Regions from separate parts of the Homo sapiens genome. Here region 1 is linked to region 2. The links come from fine-mapping of genetic effects on gene expression. A gene starts in region 2. The other region holds a variant in brackets. All regions are shown on one strand. Distances are from middle to middle. Region 1 overlaps FRMD4A (FERM domain containing 4A). Region 2 holds the start of FRMD4A (FERM domain containing 4A).

Region 1 (2,808 bases), 630 kb after region 2:
AGAAAAGAAGTTTTCCGTGGAAGTTCATGACCCACGCAGGTAAGCTTGAAAAGTCCTTTTCTTGCGGGATGGCGTGGCTCTCGGCCGGGCGTGTTATGGATATTATTTTGGGGCTGTCGTTGTTCATGGTCAGTTTGGAGCAGGGAGCGAGGGTGGGGGCTCCTGGGGAATGGAGCTCAAATCAGACAGTGAAACTTTCTTTTCAATTACATGTGTTGATAAATGCAGTGGGTTCGCACGTGTGTGTAAGTAGCAATCCCCTGACTGTCTCATCTGGCCACATGTGTCCCTGGCTCGTGTGTGTGTGTGTGTGTGTGTGTGTGTGTCAGTGTATGTGTTTGTCTTACCTGCCGGGGCACTGGAAGGAAGCTTTATAGCACTTTGTAACACACACCAGTAAGTCCCCATAGGAAACTTTTGCTATAGAAGAGTCTGAAGAATCCCTCATTAGAGCTTCTAAAAGTATTTCAGGCAGGACGGTCAATGCGAAAATGAATTTGTCACCAAAGCAGTTGTGCTACGTTGTTTTATTCCAGGAGCTGTAATTTTAGGATGTTAGTATTGTGGGTGGATGTGAAAGAAATGAAATTATTTTTCCCTCCACCCAAAATCGTACCCCAGAGAGCACCAGGGTTGTAAAAAGTCCCTGTACTCTTAAGTCAGATGCAAGACAGTGGGGCCCCAGGTTGGAATGCAGGGAGCCCCAGGTGGCTGGGGTCTGGGCAGCTCATACCCACTGTTTTCCTCTCTTTGTCTGCCGCTGGACCTAAAGTTATATGCATCCCCAAAAACAGCAGCGTAATTCCCTAAAACCAGGCCTGACAACTAAGAAATCACTTTCCATAAGGTCAGAGACATTTACAATAAGAAGGTAGCCCCAGGGAGACAGAAAAAAGATCAGACTCTACAGAGGAGCAAAAGTGGGTTTTAGGCGCTGTTGACGCTCCAGCCCTGGGCTTAGAAGGAGGACTTGGCACCAATTCCAGCTCACACATGGCTTCTGATGCTCAAAACAAGCTGCAGTCCCTCCCCATGAGCTCTGGACAGGAGGGAGATTTGGAGTTACCCCGCCCAGTGAGAGGGCTTGGACCTGTGCAGTAGCCCCTGTTCCTGCAGCCCATGATAACCCGGTAGGAATGAAGCCGTGCTTGCCCTCCAGGGTAATCTGCCTGAAA[C/T]AGCCACTCCTGTGTAGGGCAAGAGCTTATCTCAGCACCACGGTTACTACAGGAATAGTTAGTGGAGAGCAGCTGAGAGTTTCTGCATCTCCACAGTCAGGTGAAAATGGTAGCCTTTAACAGAAAAATATTTTATCCGGTGTTTCTCAGGGCCCTGCAAGGGGTTTCGCGGCCAGAAGCCCCACTCCATGGAGCACAGATCCATCTGTGCAGGCCAAGTGGGGTGGGCGGGGAGATTTCAAAAATAAGATTCCAGCCAAGAAGAAACTCACTGTTCATTTTCCAGGTGAACTGAATTGGACCAGGTTCTTAGGCATGTAAGAGAGGGGAAATTTAAGTACAGAAAGAGTGAAATGAACTTTGCCACAATGGGTCAGATGCAGAAAGGGGATGCTCCATAGGATAAAAATGAGGGGCTGGGTAATCTAAGGGGCTGAGCGCAGGGAATAGACCCTCCGCCATGCCTGTGCTCTGCTGGGAATTCAGTGAACACCCAGGCACCTTGGACAAATCCTTTAACCACGCACGCATATATCTGCACATGTGTGTTCGTGTTCTCTGTGCGTCTGTCGCCCTATTGGTGAGTACTGCTAAACTCTCTTTACCAAAGCCCAGGGATATAGGAAAGAATCTAGATCTCACACGTGACTATTCAGTGGGCCTGTCGCCTATTAGACAGCAGTGATCAATGTCATGTTTCTTGCGAAGCTTCTGTGTCCTTGTCGGGTGCTGTGGCGGGGAAGGAAGGAAGTCGGAGGCAGGGTCTTCTTCCTTAAAGATCTTCTAGTGTAACTGAGAAGACAGGCAGAAGAAGGAACTTTTATTTTGAGACACGGTCTCATTCTGTCGCCCATGCTGGAATGCAGTGGTGCAATCATAGCTCACTGCAGCCTCCACCTTCCAGGCTCAAGCAATTCTCCCACCTCAGCCTCAGCCTCCCGAGTAGCTGGGACTATAGGTACACACCACCGTACCCAGCTTTTTTTTTTTTTTGGAGAGACTGGGTCTCACAGTGTTGCCCAGGCTGGTCTCAAATTCCCAAGCTCAAGCAATCCTCCCATCTTGGCCTCTCAAAGTGCTGGGATTACAGGCGTGAGCCACTGCCTGGAACCTGGCTGAGAAGAAGGAACTCATGGAGTGTCACAAGAAACAAAGAAACCTGCTCTAGACGACAAGTAGCTAGTATACAGGAGAGGCAGGATTTGAACCTAGGAGGTCTGGCTCCAGAGCTCATGCCCTTTATCTCTATACTGTACAGAAGGGCCAGACGTCGTGGGCCATGAAGGGTGAAGGACAGGGTCACCAGAGGCCTGGCTGGTCAGGAAGGGAGAGGCTTACCAGGAAGGAGAGGTCTGAGTTGGACCTGGAGGGGTAACTAGGATTAAAGCCACGTGGTAGGGCCTCAGGGGGATATAGATGTCAGGTGGGGGCTTCTCAATTAGGATAAACAAATGAGGGAGGGTCTGGCTGGAGGGAAGTGGGAGTTGGAGGAGCCCAGAGGAAGAAGCAGAGCTGTCTCGTCCCAGGCAAACTCGCTCTGAGTACACTGAGTTAGCCTGCAGACAGGCAGGAATGGGGGAGAGGCCCAGGGAGGCCAGAGGTGGAGACCCGGGATGACTTCAGCATTAAAGAC
Region 2 (2,808 bases):
AGAAAATTTTTCACTCACTTATTTTATTTTGTTTTATTCTTTTCTTTTCTTTTTTTTTTTATTTTGAGACAGAGCCTTGCTCTGTTGCCCAGGCTGGAGTGCAGTGGTGCGATCTCACCACAGTGCAACCTCTACCTCCCAGGTTCAAACGATTCTCCTGTCTCAGTATCCCAAGTATCTAGGAACACGGGTGCCCACCGCACCCGGCTAATTTTTGTGTTTTTCATAGAACAGGGTTTTGCCATGTTGACCAGGCTGGTCTTGAACTCTTGACCAGGCTGGTCTTGAACTCTTGACCATAGGTGATCTGCCCACGTCAGCCTCCCAAAGTACTGGGGCTACAGGCGTGAGCCATTGCACCCAGCCTTCACTCATTTATTGAATATATTTTAGTACTTACTCTGTGCTAAGCACTGTGATGAGCAAATACTTTTTATTTTTAAATTTTTTTAGAGACAGAGTCTTGCTCTGTCCCCCAGGCTGGATTGCAGGAGTGCAGTCATAGCTCCCTTCAGCCTTAAACTCCTGGACTGAACTGATCCTCCCACCTCAGCCTCCCAAGTAGCTGAGACTCTAGGCACACACTACCATGCTTGGCTAATTCTTTTATTTCTATTTTTCTTTTTTTTTTTTTTTTTTGTAGAGATGAAGTCTTGCTATGTTGCCTAGGCTCACCCTGAATTTTGGGTCTCAAGCTATCTTCCTGCCTCAACCCCCAGAAGTGCTGGGAATGCAGGTGTGAGCTCCCATACCTGGCCCAAATCAATAGTTTTAAAAGTATAAGTAATAAAGGAACAGTAGCTATGCTCGTGCACAGGAACATGAAAGGTCATTAATTTCTTCCCCCTAGTTTCTTATTTCGAAAACTGTTCTCTATGTTTCTACATTTCACACTGTCTAGTTAATTTTCAGGATTTTTTGGAGCCATTACAGGAGGTGAGTAAAGGAAGAAATCAGAAAAGGACATACTAGAAGTATCAGGAATAACCATTTTTAGTTGAATACATGGACTCCAGAAGAAGATACAAGCTTGACAGTGCTCATGAAAAGATATCTAATTTTCTTAAGTCTTTGACTCTGGAAAGCCCTTTGAGCTACCCATTATATAACAAGATTCGGCAGGTTTTTTCTTTCTCCCTTCATTGACATCTTCCGGGGAAAATGCTGCATGATATGATTTTCAAGGCTAACTTGCCTTTTCCTGTTAAGCAGTGTCCCTTGTGACAAATTCACCTCCTATGCCTCCCTGAACTAGGGAGGCTCCTTCAAAATTCCTAACAGGCAGCCCTGTGGAGAGATGGGAGGGAAGGGATGGGAGGGAGGAAGGGCGGGAGGAAGGGAGGGAGAGAGAGGTAGAGTGTGTCTGTATGCGGCGTACATGTGGTACAGCCAGGGAGATCAGAACGCTCACAGAACAGGCAGTGCAATTCCATGTTCCTCTTAAGTATGTTAGCCCTACCGGGAGCTGAGCTGGCCAGTCTACTTGGAGAGGAAAAGTAGATCTGGGGAAGGTGGAAGGGTCAGTTCCTAAGTGACTTCCTCCTCGGGGATGGTAAGGGCATTTGCTGATCTCCAGTGACTGCCTGGTGCCTCATGGTCAGACTCGGCTGTCTCACTCCCAGATATCTGATTTTGCAAAAAGGGACACACCTATCTGCAGCAAAGAAGACACTGACCAGATTGCGAGCGGTATGTTGTGACATTCAGCATGTTTATGCAGCAGAATTGCTGAGAGATGCAGAGAGAGGGGGTGGCTCGGGCTGCTTGATTTATCTGCAATAGGGAATGTTTTATTTTAATTGTCAGTTAAAGGAAGAATTGCTGCCAGGGCGAAGGTAGCAGTTAAACATTCCGTGTTCTAAGCTTTCACGTTTGTGTTTGATGCGGTCTCCCTGTCTGTGCCGCTTTGCGAAGCTAGGGAGGGCTCACTTTTAAATAACCTGCAGCTTCCTATTTTCCTTCTTCTTTTTTTTTTTTTCCTCCCTAAGCACAGTTCCCACCCTGTCTTCCCTGACCTCCTCCCCACCCTGTGTGAAAGGTGGCCTATCTTCCCCTTGAGCCTTTTGCTCCCTAAGTCTGGATTTTGGCTGCTTTTTCTGCAGGTGCTTTTGGATGCTCTGTAGCCACCCGGGGCCCAGGAGGACTGACTCGGCAGCAGGATTCGTGCATGGGAATCGGAGACCATGGCAGTGCAGCTGGTGCCCGACTCAGCTCTCGGCCTGCTGATGGTGAGTGTTCAGACAGGAGGTGGGGCCCGGGCAGCGTCCACTCCAGCCTCCCCTGCACCGTGGGCTGCTGCTGCCGCTGCAGTGGCTGCAGACATGTTCAACATTGCTCCGCTTTATCCCGCAGGCTCTTTGGAAATGCTTTCTTGGGTCAGAGTATCAGCATGACAAAGCACTTGCAGGGAAAAGAAGCTGTAGATTTGCCATTTCAGAAACTTGTTGCTGAATGCTATTTTGAGAGCTGTGCTTGCAAACAGGTGCTAAGAGCCCCTCGAAATAGATTGCTAGGATGCCTCCTCCAGCTCCCAGCATCCTTTCCCCCTTGTCTTTTGCATCTAAATTGAGCTGATTGTGTTTGTTTTTGGATATCTTCTCAGGGCAACTGTGGAATCTGTTGCCCATGGGGTGACAGAATGGGGTCTTCTTTCTAGGCGCCCATATATCTGCTCATACTTTCCTGTAGAGGTGGTGGAGGAGGTTCACTGTGGCTTCAGTGATGCTTGGGCTACTGAGTTGGGAGCAGCTTGTTTCCTATCTACCATTGATGGCCAACCTTGGCAGGACTTGTCCAGGCATTTATCTG

What was found.
Region 1: its variant is fine-mapped to the expression of FRMD4A in whole blood (TOPMed, PIP above 0.99).

What each region holds. Positions count from the first base shown.
Region 1 is chr10:13,704,268-13,707,075 of GRCh38, reverse strand. FRMD4A (FERM domain containing 4A) reads left to right here. Exons shown (of 25, transcript NM_018027.5): 13 at 1-39. Among named protein-coding and RNA genes, the nearest start is that of PRPF18, 120 kb to the right of the region's middle. The variant C/T (reference allele first, on the strand shown) is at 1,176.
Region 2 is chr10:14,329,478-14,332,285 of GRCh38, reverse strand. FRMD4A (FERM domain containing 4A) reads left to right here and starts at 1,362. Exons shown (of 25, transcript NM_018027.5): 1 at 1,362-1,689; 2 at 2,103-2,228. The coding sequence starts at 2,184.